2 linked regions of the Homo sapiens genome follow. The gene in region 1 interacts genetically with each later gene. Each region holds a gene or a part of one and is shown in the gene's direction. Other genes may lie near its edges.

Region 1 (3,500 bases):
GGCTGCCATTCTAGCCCTAACCAGTTCACCTGAGGTCTAGGCTGTACTTCACGTTCTCTACTCCAGGCCATCTAACTGCCCCCAGAGCTTTCTGAAATACCCATTGTACATACCATTACCCCTCCCCTAAATCTTCAGTGGCCCTCCATTATCCATAGTAGCAGTACTCAGCTGTTTTTCTGTCCCAACACGCCTGAGGAATGACACATATTTCTCTCAGTAACTTTAGTTTACCTCAACAATGATTATCAATGGTAGGGAAAATAAGGAGATGGAGGGGATTGAGAATCACTGGCCTGCAGGTTAAAAGCGTGTTTATTAGTGTGACATTTAAGTTTCTCCATAAATGGAATGCAACCTTCTTTTCAAATCATACAGTCCTACAGTGCAATCAGTGTTGGAAGGAGGCAGTGCTGGAGCCAAATGCAGTTGGCTAACAAGGTTTCTTGACAGAGAAAAGTTTTACTTAGATCTAAATCCTTATTCCATAAACATGCTATACACATTACCATTTCTGTGCCTTTGTTTCTGCTATTTCATCTGCCCATGATTCCTTCCTCCCTCTTGGCTGTCTAAATACTAACAGTGTTTTCAATCATAGTTTAAGTCCTCTTCATCCTTTTTTTTTTTTTTCTTTTTGAGACTGTGTCTCGCCCTGTCGCCCAGGCTGGAGTGCAGTGGCACTATCTCAGCTCACTGCAACCTATGCCTCCTGGGTTCAAGCAGTTCTCCTGCCTCAACCTCCCAAGTAGCTGGGACTACAGGTGTGCGTCACCATGCCCAGCTAATTTTTGTATTTTTAGTAGAGACAGAGTTTCACCATGTTGGCCAGGCTGGTCTCGAACTCCTGGCCTCAAGTGATCTGCCCACCTCGGCCTCCCAAAGTGCTGGGATTACAGGCGTGAGCCACCAAGCCTGTTCGAGATCCACATCTCAAAAAAAAAAAAGTAAGATTATGTCCTCCCCTTTACTGTAAGCCCCTGAAGGTAGAGACCAAACCATATCCTTTTGTTCCCCAGTACTTAACAGTGTGTTGCAGGTAAAGGGCTATCAATTAATGTTGGAAGGAGGTGGTACTGGAGCCAAAGGCCATTAGCTAGAAAGTTTTCTTGCCTGAGGAAAATGAAGGGCTGGATTAGGAAGGAGAGTAGGGCAGCCCTTATCAAGAAAGTCGAGAGATTCTGTTCCTCCTGAAGGGGCATTAAGGCTTCCATTGCCAGCCAACCCTTATCTCCCTGTGTCCTTAGGAATCCGGAGATGATGAGTATCAAGGGGACCAGTCAGACACAGAGGACGAAGTGGACTCTGACTTTGACATTGATGAAGGGGATGAACCATCCAGTGATGGAGAAGCAGAAGAGCCAAGAAGGAAGCGCCGAGTAGTCACCAAGGCCTATAAGGTACAGGGGGAGTCCTAGTTGTCTTGGATTTCCTCAATTCCTATTCTCTCTTTCATCAGGTCCCAGTACTCCCTATGCCACTTCCATTTCTGGCAATGCTAGTTTTCTCTCATTGAGATCCTCATATTTCTCCTGACTTCTTCTGTTCCCCAGTATCTGATTCCAATCTGTCCTCAGGAACCTCTCAAGAGCTTAAGGCCTCGAAAGGTCAACACCCCGGCTGGTAGCTCTCAGAAGGCGCGAGAAGAGAAGGCACTACTGCCATTAGAACTACAAGATGACGGCTCTGACAGTGAGTAGGGATGTTAGGGTCAATTGGCAAAATTGGAATATAATAATAAAGTATCATATCAGTGTTAAATTTACTGATGTTGCTGGGTGCGGTGGCTCACTCCTAGAATCCCAGCACTTTGGGAGGCCTAGGCGGGTAGATCACCTGAGGTCAGGAGTTCGATACCAGCCTGGCCAACATGGTGAAATTCCGTCTCTACTAAAAATACAAAAATTAACCAGGTGTGGTGGTGGGCCCCTGTAATCCCAGCTACTTGGGAGGCTGAGGCAGGAGAATTGCTTGAACCTGGGAGGTGGAGGTTACACCATTGCACTCCAGCCTGGGCAACAAGAGCAAAACTCTGTCACCAGAAAAAAGTAATAAAAAGAAGAAAAAATTTACTGATGTTGATAACTTACTATGGGTAGGAAAATCCTCATTCTTAGGAAATACACACTGAAATATTTAGGGATAAAGGCCATGATGTGTACAACTTTAGTTACCTAATTTAGATCATTCAGAAAAAAACCACACATAACAAAATGCAAAAGGGCCAAAATATTACCAATAGGTGATGGGGTAAAAGATACATGAGTATTCCTTGTACTATTCTTGCAACTTCGTAGGTTTGAAATTATTTCAGGCCAGGCACGGTTGCTCATGCCTGTAATCCCAGCATTTTGGGAGGCCGAGGCAGGCAGATCACGAGGTCAGTAGTTCAAGACCATCCTGGCTAACATGATGAAACCCCATCTCTACTAAAAATACAAAAAATTAGCTGGATGTGGTGGCATGCACCTGTACTCCCAGCTACTCGGGAGTCTGAGGCAGGAGAATTGTTTGAACCCAGGAAGCAGAGGTTGGAGTGAGCCGAGATCGTGCCACTGTACTCCAGCCTGGGCGACAGAGCGAGATTCCATCTCAAAAAAAAAAAAAGAAAAAAAAATTATTTCCAAGTACAACATTTCAAAATAAATAAATAAAATATGTGGACATGAATTCAAAGATTTCTTCTTATCTCACTCTCTTCCAGGTCGGAAGTCTATGCGTCAGTCTACAGCTGAGCATACACGACAAACGTTCCTTCGGGTACAGGAGAGGCAGGGCCAGTCAAGACGGCGAAAGGGGCCCCACTGTGAGCGGCCACTAACCCAGGAGGAACTGCTCCGGGAGGCCAAGATCACAGAAGAGCTTAATTTACGGTCACTGGGTAAGTCTGTGGTTTCAGAAAAAGTGAGTAGAGGGGCTGAGGGGCATGAGAAAAACCATGAGACCTGGAGGACCAAAGAACTGGAGAGATGGAAATTTGGGATGATGGAATCAGAAGGAAGAAATGGCGGAGAGTAGGTAATTAGGTGCAAGAGTCTAGGCAGTTATGAGCACTCTGAAGAACAAGCTAAGGTACTTTGGTGTAAAATAAGAGTTGTATAGAACTGAGGTCAAATCCTCGTTCTGCTATTCATTTGCTTTAAGTCTGTAGGTAAATTACTTATTCACATTTTGCTTTTCTTGTTTATAAAATGGGGTATATACCTAATGACTCAGGAAATTTAGGCAGGAGGATCACTTGAGGCCAGGAGTTCATAACCAGCCTGGACAACATAGTGAAACCCCATCTCTTAAAAAAAAAAAAAGCAGGGGGTGATAATGTTGACTTTAATGATAATCATGAGAACGTGAAGTCAGCAGATTAGTCCTTCATGAGATAAATTGCTTTAAAAATCTCTTCATTTTATGGTATTGCTTTAAAAATCTCTTCAGTTTGGGCCAAGCGCAGTGGCTCATACCTGTAATCCCGGCACTTTGGGAGGCCAAGGTGGGTGGATCAC
Region 2 (3,500 bases), on another chromosome or scaffold:
TAGGTGGGAGGTGGGTGAGGAAAGTAGAAATAGTTTGATCCTTGGGTGATGGCAGTACCCGAGCAGGTCTGGGAATAAGGAAGTATGAGGGAGACTTGGTACCCACTGCTTATGGTTTTACCAAAGGTCTTGGACAGGCTCTGGTGCCTGAGAGATGGCTGCTGCTCAGATATACTTGCAGGCAATTCTTAAATTAAGTGTTTATATGTTTCCTGCATTTCTAGTTTTATAGAGGTGTGTTCTTAATATTCTTTTCCTGTGTTATGAATTATTGTTTTGTATAATGCAATGAAATGAGTGGCTAGTTGTAAGTTCTTATTGTGAAAAAGTTTTATATTAAGCCCCACTCATTTCTCAATTATTATTTTCTTTCTGCTGCCTTTAAATCTAGAATATACATTGCTGCAGTTGGTTTCATGCTTTGCATCCACAAGTTTGTAATCATAAAAATATTTAAAATATGTGCTGGGGCCAGGCGTGGTGGCTAATGCCTGTAATCCCAGCAGTTTGGGAGGCCGAGGTGGGTGGATCACCTGAGGTCAGGAGTTCGAGACCAGCCTGGCCAACATGGTGAAACCTCTTCCCTACTAAAAATACAAAAATTAGCTGGGTGTAGTGGCGGGTGCCTGTAATCCCAGCTGCTCAGGAGGCTAAGGCAGGAGAATTGCTTGAACCCGGGAGGTGGAGTTTGCAGTGAGCCGAGATCACGTCAAGATCATGCCACTGCACTCCAGCCTGGGTGACAGAGTGAGACCCTGTCCTAAAATATATGTCTGGCACGGTGGCTCACACCTGTAATTCCAGCACTTCAGGAGGCGGAGGTGGGCGGATCACTTGAGGTCAGGAGTTAGACACCAGCCTGGCCAACATGGGGAAACCCCATCTCTACTAAAAATGCAAAAAATTAGCTGGCTGTGGTAGTGCACGCCTGTAGTCCCGGGAGGCTGAGGCACGAGAATCGCTTGAACCTGGGAGGTGGAGGTTGCAGTGAGCTGAGATCGCGCCACTGTATTCCAACCTGGGGGACAGAGTGAGACCTTGTCTCCAAAAAAACCCACCACCACCACCAATATATATATAATGTAATTTATAACATCCTGAACTAGAATCAGTACGCTACATAGTCTTGCAATTGGGGCACTCCCTAGGAACAAAACTTATGCCTAATTGGCTGATGTTTAAAGTCAGCTGTGGTGTGTGTGTGTGTGTGTGTGTGTGCACGCTCATGTAATTGGCAAACATTGTTTTGAAAAAAATTTTTAAGCATGAGTTTTAGAAAATATTTTGTGCTTGGAATTGGAAAGTATTTTTAGGCTATAACTAGTTTATTAACTTATATATACATATATTGTCTACTAAGTAATGTCTTTGTTGCACGTATTTTCCAGACAATGTCACTTTATTATTCAAGTTATACTGCTTGGCAGTGATGACCCTGATGGCTGCAGTCTATACCATAGCTTTAAGATACACAAGGACATCAGACAAAGAACTCTACTTTTCAACCACAGCCGTGTGTATCACAGAAGTTATAAAGTTATTGCTAAGTGTGGGAATTTTAGCTAAGTGAGTATAAATACTTATAGTGTGTTAAATTATTTTTCTACCTGGTGAGGGTATTTGTTAGAAAATTCAAGCTACATCTTTATATGTTTAATTGCTCTGGGTCAGTGTTTCTCAACTAGGGGTGATTTTGCCCCCCAGAAGATTTTTTAGTTGTCACAACTTGAGAGATGCTACTGGCATCTAGTGGGTGGAGACCAAGGATGCTGCTAAACATCCTGCAATCCCCATGACAGCCTCACAACAAAGATTTATCCAGCCCCAAATGTCAGTACTGCTGAGGTTGAAGAACGCTGCTGTAGAATAGAAGTTGGCAAACTATGTCTCATGGGCCAAATCCAGCTTGCTCCCTGGTTTTGGTGTAATGGAGACTGACTGGCTTGCAAAGCCTAAAATATTTACTGTTTGGCCCTTACAGAAAACAATTATTGACTTGTGTTTTGGATGAATATAATAATAATAACATTTCTTGAGTGTTTCCTATGTTAAGTGCTAGGCACTGTGCTATGTGTTTTTTGTGTTTTCTCATTTACTTCTTCCACATTTTCAAGGTAAGTACTTTACCCCTGTTTTATTGACGCAGCATCTGAGGTTCCTTAAGATTACACTGTTAATATGTGGCAGCACCGGGCTTTGAATCAAAAACATCATGCAAGAATTGTTTAGCTAAGGATGTGGTATAAGAGAGGGTTAAGAATTAGGGGCATTGGAGGAGATAGACCTAATTTTAATCCTAGACTGAGATTGTGGCTGCATACACACTTGTAACCTCTTTAAGCTTCAGTTTGTTCATTTTTTTAATTTGAGAAAATAATATGGGGTGCTGAAAATTAAATAAAATCTAATAGGTAAATTACCAGGGGAAAGATTTATGAGATGGGGACCTATAGGAGTCATTGGGGCAGTTAAGAAGTCATACAGGTTTCAAGATGTGTGTTGGTGAGTGAAGGGAAGCAGGGAGGAATAGTGTTGTGTGTAGGCTTTTATGTAGAAACAGACATTACATTTAAATATTGAAATGTTACACGACATTGTGATTGCTTCAGCTTCAGCAGTGTGTGATGAGACAGTTGATAATGCAACTGCAAGCATGGCTATCATTTTGGGAAAGATACCGAGTGAAAGTGTTGAAAATTGGTTCTAGATCTTGAAAAGGCTTATACTAATCCACTTGAAGTAGTTCGAATATGAAAAATATGTGTTATAAATAAAGTTTCAGTGCCACACACAAAAAAACAGCACTCGAATACAAAATTTTCTTTTTTTCTTCTCAGCAAGGCAGTTTTCCTTCTATAGAAGGGTGTGCCCTCACAGATGGAGCAATGGTGAGCGCACACCTGGACAAGGGAGGAAAAGGGGACTTATTCCTTATGCACGTGGCCTCTATGGCTCTGTCGTTCCCCTATTGGCTAGGGTTAGACTGCACAGGCTAAACTAATTCCAGTTGGCTAATTTAAAGAGAGTGATGGGATGAGTGGTTTGGCGGGAAAAATGGTTATGGCAGAGCAGGAAATCGGAATGAGTCAGGGTGGAGAGGGTAATCAGAAAAGGTTGCTTTACGAGGAAGTTAAATTTAAAAGTAGAAGGCAAAGAATTGAACATACTGACATACTGATTCTTCGAAGAGAAATTTAGAACTCATATCTAACAATCCCCTCCTCTTGCATTTTCCTTACACCTCTTTCTCTTCAAACTTCTTTAACATGCCTTGGCTTAGTTCTGCTCAATTTTCCGAAAGAAGAAGCTTCTCTGGATAAGGTGGAGGATAGTTAAGGGAGGTTTTAGTAAGTGCCATTTCTATGAGCACTTACTCTGCACCAACCCACAGATGCATGGTATGACACAGCACCCGACAAGAATAAGTACACCCATTACAGCTGTGAGGGAAGTAAGAATTGAGGCTGTTATTCCTTTCCATTTACCGAACCACTTTTCTA

The links. A genetic interaction does not mean that the proteins touch.
Region 2: changes in VPS72 (region 1) and SLC35A1 together harm fitness more than expected from each alone (negative genetic interaction), as found in Homo sapiens cells (one large-scale study listed by BioGRID).

What each region holds. Positions count from the first base shown.
Region 1 is NC_000001.11:151,183,698-151,187,197, reverse strand, and holds part of VPS72 (vacuolar protein sorting-associated protein 72 homolog), read left to right. Parts: intron 1-1,247; coding exon 1,248-1,400; intron 1,401-1,577; coding exon 1,578-1,692; intron 1,693-2,704; coding exon 2,705-2,881; intron 2,882-3,500. UniProt on the Homo sapiens protein: Deposition-and-exchange histone chaperone specific for H2AZ1, specifically chaperones H2AZ1 and deposits it into nucleosomes.
Region 2 is NC_000006.12:87,475,974-87,479,473, forward strand, and holds part of SLC35A1 (CMP-sialic acid transporter), read left to right. Parts: intron 1-1,388; coding exon 1,389-1,566; intron 1,567-3,500. UniProt on the Homo sapiens protein: Transports CMP-sialic acid from the cytosol into the Golgi apparatus, functioning as an antiporter that exchanges CMP-sialic acid for CMP. Binds both CMP-sialic acid and free CMP, but has higher affinity for free CMP.